Regions from separate parts of the Homo sapiens genome. Here all the other regions are linked to region 1. Evidence: fine-mapped expression QTL. A gene starts in region 1. Each other region holds a variant in brackets. All regions are shown on one strand. Distances are from middle to middle.

Region 1 (2,500 bases):
AAGCCCTGGGGTAGGAATTCTTAGCCTGCCTTCCTTAGGCCTTGGAATCAGGGTGTGCGGGGATTTCTTAGATGTGGAGAGGACAGAGCTGCCTTTGCATGCAACACAGGGACAGATCTGATACCCACAACCCCAGCTGCTGAGCATACATCCTGCCCCATCTCCCTCCAAGCGTCCCTGTGCCGGCGCCCCTTGATGGCCTCAGTGCCACGCTGTGTCTGAGAAGTGTCTCATGGCAAGGGCAAAGTTTTCCTCAGCACTCGTGCTTGCCTCCTGACAGAGAAACAGCCTCTGTCCGCGTAGGTTCCACTTCCCTCCACCAAACTGCCTCAACAAACGGCGGGAGGATGTTGCGACTGACTGGGGAACGGAGGCCTGGGTCTATTTCTGACGCACTGTGGTCAAAACACTTCCTCTGTGAATGTGCCCTACTCCAGGGGGCCGTGGGTAGGGCTGGGGGTCGACCGCAGCCGGGTGCGCCCCTCCCAGGTTCCCCCCTCCCTGATCGACCCCTACCCCGCCCCGCCCCCTGTGCGCCCGGGCGCGCTCTCCCAGGAATCTCCGGAGACAAAGCCTCGCTTTGTCGCCCCCTCCCACGCCACCTGAAGGGTGCCCGAGGGGGTTTCTCACGCGGGGCCCAGAAGGTATCAGAGGGTATGGAGGAGGCGGGTGTCCACGGCAGCGTTAGGGAGGGTGAATGGCAGCAGTGGGGGCAGGTCCCTGAGGCTCAGGCCCCTCCACCATCCAGCTGCCCCTCCGTTCCCAGCCCGCCGCGCCGAGACAGGAGATGAAAGCCTCCCGCTGCGGGTGGCCCGGACGAGGGCAGACGGAATCTCATGACGGAAGGGCAAAGATCTTTCTTGGGGGTGGAGGGTGGAAGGAGGAAGACCTCGGCGAAAGGGGAGAAAGGAGCGACCCAGCCTGGAAACGCCAGGACAAAGGCTGTGAGAGGGGTGGAGCGGTCTGAAAGGATGGAGAGGGAGCTGGACCGCGGGCGGCAGCGGTGGGGGTCCCCGACACTGGACGGCAAAGTCCGGACGCGGCGTGAGCAGGGCTGGGCTGAGGGAAGACCTGCCTGACCTGCCAGGCGTGGTTCCCGAGCGACCGCAGCTGCGTTTCCCCGGAAGCGCACCCCACCTCACCCCACCCGGCCGCGGGGCTCGCAGCCGGCTCCGCTGGACGACTTACCGGCGGCTCCGAAGCCGGGAGGGGCCGCTTCCTGTTGGGCTGGCAACCAGGTCTGAGCGGGTGGGAGGGCGGGGGCGGGGGCGGGGGCGGAAACGCCGAGATCGGGCGGGGATGCTGGGATGCGGGGCGGCCCGGGGCGTGCGCCTGGAGTCGCGCGGAGTGTGGGCTTCCGCGAGGGGCGCGGGGCGCCGCCCGGGCTTTATTCGCGACTCATTAGCATCTCATTACTTCTGGATCCCTCTACCGCCTCCAGCGGGGACAGTCTTGGGCCCGCCCATGCCTGCAGGGTGGCGCCCGAGGGCGTGGCGCTGCGGACACCCCGTTCCGCTCTGGGGCCTCTGGGTGGGTCTGGCCTGTTGGGGGCTGAGGAGCTCGAGGGTCAGGGCGCCCAGTGCTGGACCGCGCACCCTCGGCCTGGGCTCCTTGCCGGTGCTTGCGCGTGCAAGGCTAGCTCTTTCCCCGCCGCAAGGCGAGGACCACCCGCCCCCGCCGCGGTCCCAGGTCCGCTGGCAGCCTCCCAGCGCCGGGCCGAGAGGGCGCTCAGGCTCCTCAAGAGGTTTGGAAAAGCCGGCGGGTCCGAGGGTGGCGCCGGAACGTCTGCGCTCTCCTCCGGTCTCCCACCTGGAGATCCACGGCCCGGGCGCCCCAGGATGGATCCAAGCGCAGAGTGCGCCTCCTGTGACAGAGGTCGACCCCTAAGCCCGGGCCGAGGGCAAAGGGCGCGGATTAAAGTCCTGGAAACTCAGCAATCTGCAGCTTCCAAATGGATATGAGAAGTGAGAGGGAAGGGGATGGCGGGGCGGGTTAGACCACCACTAAGAGATGGGGAATGGGAGGGGTGTGTGGAAGAGAGACCAAGTCTTCAAAGAATGCCTTAGAGTGAGGACCCACGGGACTGTCTGCTGAAAAGGGCTGGAGAGGCCTTTGGGATCAGCTTCGTCGTATTCCCGATAAGGAACAGCGCCTAAAGTGAAGGGACGCGTCCAGTCTTTTAGCTAGTTAATATTAAAAAACATCGTCTCATTTATTGACCGTCATCCTATGAGTATTACCTCAACATCAGTGCTTGCAACAGTCCCATTTTACCAAAAAGGAAACTGAGTCACAGATGTTCTGTGATCTGCACACAGCAAGTGGCAGAGCTGTTTGGGGGCCCAGGTCTGTCGGCTCCACCACCCCAGGGTTGACCCAAAATGACGCATGAAAGGCTGGCATTATAAGATGCTGTTTCTTGTTTAGACGAAGTGATACTGTTACACTGGAAGCACTAATAAAACCCAGGTATAAATAAGAGGGTTGCTGTCCTTGAGAT
Region 2 (2,850 bases), 44 kb after region 1:
CTCCTGCAATGTTTCAAATTATATCCTGGGATGCAGTTTTGGAACTCACTGCTGAGTTGCTTCACTGGTCCCAGAGTCACAAGTTCCAGTAATGGGGCTCCTAGTCCCAAGTTTCTGGGTGCCTATCCCTTCCTATTGATTGATTCCAAGATAAGACATTTTCTTTCTTTAGTAAATATTTGGAGTTAGGAACAAACTTACATTCAGTTTTTCCTGAGAACTCATTTTATAGTAGTGCCCCCTGAACTCTGCTGCAAATTCCAAGGAGTCAGTTGCAGAGCAATCAAATAATTCCTGGGATTCTGCCAGGCTGACAGGGCAGAACTGTTCAAATTCTCCCAGGCGAGAAAGCAGCTCTTGAGGTGTGATACATAACTTGTCAATGCAGGCAGCTTTTCCTATTATTAACATATTAACTATTATCATGTATATATTTTTCATAGAGAACGCAATGATTTTAGAAATTAAAATAATTTTAATTACACAGCACTATACATACACATTATAAAATTCCAAACAATAGAGTAAAAAGTAAAAGTTACTATTCACATCTCCATTGTTTCAATCCAATACTTAACCTGAGAGGTAATCATCACTGTTGGATTTGTATCTTTTTCAGTCTTTTTTCTATACCTTCACATACATACTTTTTTGCATATAGTATGCTTGTGCCACTATACTATAAACATTATTCTGCAACTTGCTTTTATCAGTCAGTTATGGTCTTTGACCTCTTTTCATATAAGCTTATATAATTTACCTAATTTTTTTTTTTGAGATGGAGTCTCGCTCTGTCACCCAGGCTGGAGTGCAGTGGCGTAGCTCGATCTCAGTTCACTGCAGCCTCCCAGGTTCAAGTGATTCTTGTGCCTCAGCCTCCCAAGTAGCTAGGATTACAGATGTGTACCATCACAGACGGCTAATTTTTTGTACTTTTAGTAGAGACAGGGTTTTGCCATGCTGGCCAGGTTGGTCTCGAATTCCTGGCCTCAGGTGATCCACCCACCTCGGCCTCCCAAAGTGTTGGGATTACAGGCATGAGCCTTCCGTGCCTGGCCAATTTACCTAATTCTTTTTAATCGATGCATAGTATTCCACTGTATAAACATACATGTAGTTTACTCAACCATTTATCTATTGGTGAATGTTTTGGCCGTTTTAGTTCTTAGCTATTATAGACTATATATATGA[T/TACAC]ACACACACACACACACACACACACACACACACACACACAATTTATACCTGTGTATACCCGCACATTTATAAACTTGCTACATTTAAAAAAAACCTATGGGCTAGATTTCAGGAAGTGCAAATAGTTTGTTGACATGATGTTACTCACACAAAGTTCTCCCTGTGCCCAGATCCCACCCAAGAGAAGGAAAACAAACATTTATCCAAAAGTGATTGGCTTTATTCTAAAGAGTAGATTTTAAAAAGAAAGTGCCCAAGTTCCTTTAATGAACAAGATTAAGAGTTTTCTCTCTATGCTTACCCAGAACAAAAATGTAAGTACACACATAAAAAAGAGAGTTTTCTCTCTAATACTCCACTGGAATGGGGACTTCAAAGCAATATAAGATGTTATAGAAAATAAAATTACTTTTTAAATACATTTTAGTTATAATGAGTGGACTTATTATAGCCAGTACGTTTTGTTAGTTGTCGTTTTACCAAGGCAAAGTTTTACCTTTTTAAAAGATTATGCCTAGGAAGGTCCTAAATTAACCATAAAATTATGAAGCAAAAATCATAGTTTGTTTTTTGTTTGTTAGGATAGAAATGATCTCATCTGCAATGTACTATTACAGCACTGTAATCCCTTATCTAAGACCCTTGGGGCCAGAAATGTTGGATAATTCAGAATATTTTAGATTTTGGAAACGCATCACACTCAGCCAGGTGTGGTGGCTCACGCCTGTAATCGCAGCACTTTGGGAGGCTGAGGTGGGTAGATCGCTTGAGTCCAGGAGTTTAAGACCAGCTTGGGCAACATGGCGAGACCCTGTCTCTACAAAAAATACAAAAATTAGCCCTCTGTGGTGGCACATGCCTGTAGTCCCTGCTACTTGAGAGGCTGAAGTGGGAGGAACACTTGAGCTTGGGAGGTGGAGGCTGCAGTAAGCCACTGCACTCCAGGCTGGGCAACAGAGTGAGACTCTCAAACAAACAAACAAACAAAATGAAAGAAAAGAAATACATCACACCCTCACAGTGTCTGGAGAAGCACCCTGTAATCGATAAGATGAAATTTCTGCAACCAAATAGGTTGACCCTTCCCCACTTACTGGGTTTCATAAAAAGACTGTAAATAGCCATATGTCAGCTCATGTGAAGTTTTGCCCTCAAATGATTTATAACTAAACTTGATATTTTTAGAGGTTTTTGGATTTTGGAATCACAGGCCAGAGGTGTCATGTCACTTGATTGCCTCACTGATCTGCCTGCCTGTACTGGGGAGGAGGGTGTGGGGGTCCAGGAGATGATGTCCCCTGATACCAACTACCATTTCCACTCTTCAAAAGGCCACATGTAATCCTGAAAAGGAGATGGTTGGGAAACCGTGCCCAAAGAGGTTTCCATTATGCAATCTCTCCACAATCCTGCTTTTAAACAGGGAGTAGGAGAGGGGGAAAGGAACATACACAACATGAAGGGATCTTTATTAACTGGCATTCCTTTAAGCAATCACAGCCCTCCTTCAATAAGGCAGGCATTTAAAACCATTGCTTATTGGCTCTCATCCTCTATTCATCTCTTGCAGGCAAAGAATCATCAGTGTGGCATCAGCACTACTCCTAACAAGGTCTTTAGGACATAAACTGATAAAGTGACAGTATTTTCCAAATGGTA
Region 3 (2,850 bases), 120 kb before region 1:
TCACTGCTTCCTGTCTGCCCCTCCTCAGACATGCTCCCTGTCCCATGTCCCCTGCAGGTACTCTGCCTGCACCCTTCTCCCTCTCCCTGCTTCCAGCCTCTCTCCCCTTGAGCTGTGCTTTCAGCTCAACCTCTTGAGGCCTCAGTAGAGCTCTGAGAGAAGGAAGCAATAGAACTTCTATGGCCTCTGGAGATGCTCAAGGAGAGTCCTACCTTTCCCACCTCTTTGGTGTTATACAGACTCACCACAGACTCCTCCTGCTGGCCAGGTAAAACATCATGTTGGCTCAGAGGGCATGGCAGAGGGCCACTGTGGTCCAGTTGTGCGTTTCTGTGGGTTTGGGATCCTATATCTGCAGAGGCTATGGTGGCATTACTATGAGAAGTGTTTGCCCTGCATAAGAGCTGTTGGATGCCCTGTTGGCACACCCATGTCTGGGCACTCATACCCAGGATAGTAAAGACTGAGTTGCTGTGGCTGGCTCAGAGCACTAGGCCCAGAAGAGGTCACTGGCCACACCTTGCTGAACTCCAGTAGGGTCTTGTGACTTCTCATGGCTGCAGGCTTTCATTACAGTCAAACCAGGAAGTGCTTCCTTTGTCATGACCAAACCCGTGTAGCCTTGCCCTTTCACCAGGAGGTCAAGGTCCAGGGGTAGAATCTTGAGTTCTCTTTGCCTTGTGTCAGCAACTAAACCATGGCTGTCCTGGTGCTTGCTCTCCAGAGACTGGGTGGGGCAAGAAGGGTAACGGGCAGGTCATCCTGCCCTCACCCCACCCACTAATGCAGCCCCTTGAGGAGGGCCCTAGAGTGTGAGTGGGAGACACTGAGTTCCTGCCCCTCACTGCCCCATCCACTGCTCATTAAATGCAGCGTGAGCAGAGGTTTCCATCTGCTGCTTTATTGCCCGTATCTTGATCATATCCTGCCAAGCTGATATAGTTGATGACTTTTTAAAAAGCTCAACTATCTTTAGATTACTATATGCATTTTATTTTTACATATATTTACATAATTATTTTAGTTATATACATTTTATGATTATATTGTAGTAGAAAATATACTCATAATCTTAGTGCTCATTGATAACCATTATTATTATTATTATTATTTTTTTTTTTTAAGAGACAGGTCACCCAGGCTGGAGTGCAGTGGCCTGATCATACCTCACTGCAGCTTCAAACTCCTGGGCTCAAGTGCTCCTCCAACCTCAGCCTCCTGAAGCTAGGACTACAGGCACACACCACCATGCCCAGCTAGTTTTTGTATTTCTTTTTTGTAAAGATGGGGTCTCACTTTGTTGGCCAGGCTGATCTCAAACTCCTGGCCTCAAGCAATCCCTCCTTGGCCTCCCAAAGTGCTGGGATTACAGATGTGAGCCACAGCACCTAGCCTCCACTATTATTATTTTGACATATTTTCTTCCAAACTTTATTTATAACACTTTTCTACTCATGCACTTTGATATAGGTTGGCTGTGTCCCCACCCAAACCTCACCTTGAATTGTAACTCCCACAATTCCCACATGTTGTGGGAGGAACCCAGTGGGAGGTGATTGAATCATGGGGGTGGGTATTTACTGCACTGTTCTTA[C/A]CATAGTGAATGAGGCTCACAAGATTTGATGGTTTTAAAAACAGGAGTTTCCCTGCAAAAGCTCTCTTTCTTTGCTGCCATCTGTGTAAGACGTGACTTGCTCCTCCTTGCCTTTCACCATGATTGTGAGGCCTCCCCAGCCATGTTGAACTATAAGTCCATTAAACCTCTTTCTTTTGTAAATTGCCCATTCTCAGGTATGTCTTTTTCAGCAGTGTGAAAATGGACTAATACACACTTTTTTTTTTTTTACAAAATAAGATTATTCTGCATGACCTTTTTTTATAGCATGCTTTTTTGTTCACTTGACAATATGTTATAAAGATCTTTCCTCATCAATAAACATATGTCCATTTATGGTGGCCATTCAGTATTTCGTCATGTCTATGAGCCAGATGGATTCAACTCATTTCCATTGTTAGGCATTTTAGGTCGTTTCCATTTTTCTTTTCTATTGGAAAAAATATAAAGACATATGTAAAATATGTAAAAATATAAAAACATACATAAACATCTGTTTACGTATGTTTTTGTGGATAACTTTTATTCCCTAAATTCCTAGAAGAGGAGCTACTAAGTCAAAAGTCACAAGCATGTAAAATCTTGTCATATATTCTGTCAGCTTGCCTCCAAAATAGATTCTGTCTCCTCTCCCCAGCTGCAGCGAGTGAGCCACTGTCCTTACTCTCCTCCATCAGGGCTCGTCTTACTGCTATTTGCCATCTCTGCTAGTTTGCCTCAATAACTTACCTTGGCCAAGCCCATGGTAGGCTTTCACTGGAGGTCAGTGGAGCACTGGGGTTGCAATGATAGGACAGTGCCCTGGGCCTTCCAGGACAAGCAAATCAGAGCCAGGAGGATCCCCTAGGCTCAAAGGACAGGCTGGCTTCAATGGTAGATGGCCAGGGAGCAGGAGCCGGCCTGACCCCAGAAGTGTCACAGATAAAACTCACGTTACAGTGTAGGCTGGGTCTTAGACTTGGCCCCATAAACTTTCTCACCCCCCATCCCTGCAGATAGATACACACACACACACACACACACACACACTCATTGATGCACAGAGGGACAAACACACTCGCATAGATATGCAGGTCCTAGTTAGGTAGGTCTGTCCTACCTTCCAAATATTGGCTCCCATTTCTCTCCAGAACCTAAATCTAAGCCTGCCTTGGAAGGTTGGGCTGTTCCTTAATTGCCACCTATTCAAAAAGTATGCTCAATCTCCTGGAGAAAGGGAATGAGTGGAATTGCCT

Direction of the effects. Alleles are on the strand shown, and positions count from the first base shown. SD is a standard deviation of normalised expression in the study named. Not every link is listed here.
For the expression in Th17 cells of the gene that starts at base 1,242 in region 1, T is the high allele of the variant in region 2 and TACAC is the other (large effect, 0.84 SD a copy in Schmiedel 2018).

Evidence for each region.
Region 2: its variant is fine-mapped to the expression of MICAL1 in Th17 cells (Schmiedel 2018, PIP 0.95).
Region 3: its variant is fine-mapped to the expression of MICAL1 in whole blood (TOPMed, PIP 0.93).

The regions. Positions count from the first base shown.
Region 1 is chr6:109,454,531-109,457,030 of GRCh38, forward strand. It overlaps MICAL1 (microtubule associated monooxygenase, calponin and LIM domain containing 1), which reads right to left and starts at 1,242. Exons shown (of 25, transcript NM_022765.4): 1 at 1,189-1,242. RefSeq lists enhancers at 114-163, 246-754 and silencers at 314-653, 1,014-1,863.
Region 2 is chr6:109,498,843-109,501,692 of GRCh38, forward strand. AK9 (adenylate kinase 9) reads right to left here. Exons shown (of 41, transcript NM_001145128.3): 36 at 202-398. All of the region lies in intron 3 of ZBTB24-DT (ZBTB24 divergent transcript), which reads left to right. Among named protein-coding and RNA genes, the nearest start is that of ZBTB24-DT, 17 kb to the left of the region's middle. The variant T/TACAC (reference allele first, on the strand shown) is at 1,192.
Region 3 is chr6:109,332,375-109,335,224 of GRCh38, forward strand. It overlaps the pseudogene CCDC162P. Among named protein-coding and RNA genes, the nearest start is that of CD164, 49 kb to the right of the region's middle. The variant C/A (reference allele first, on the strand shown) is at 1,595.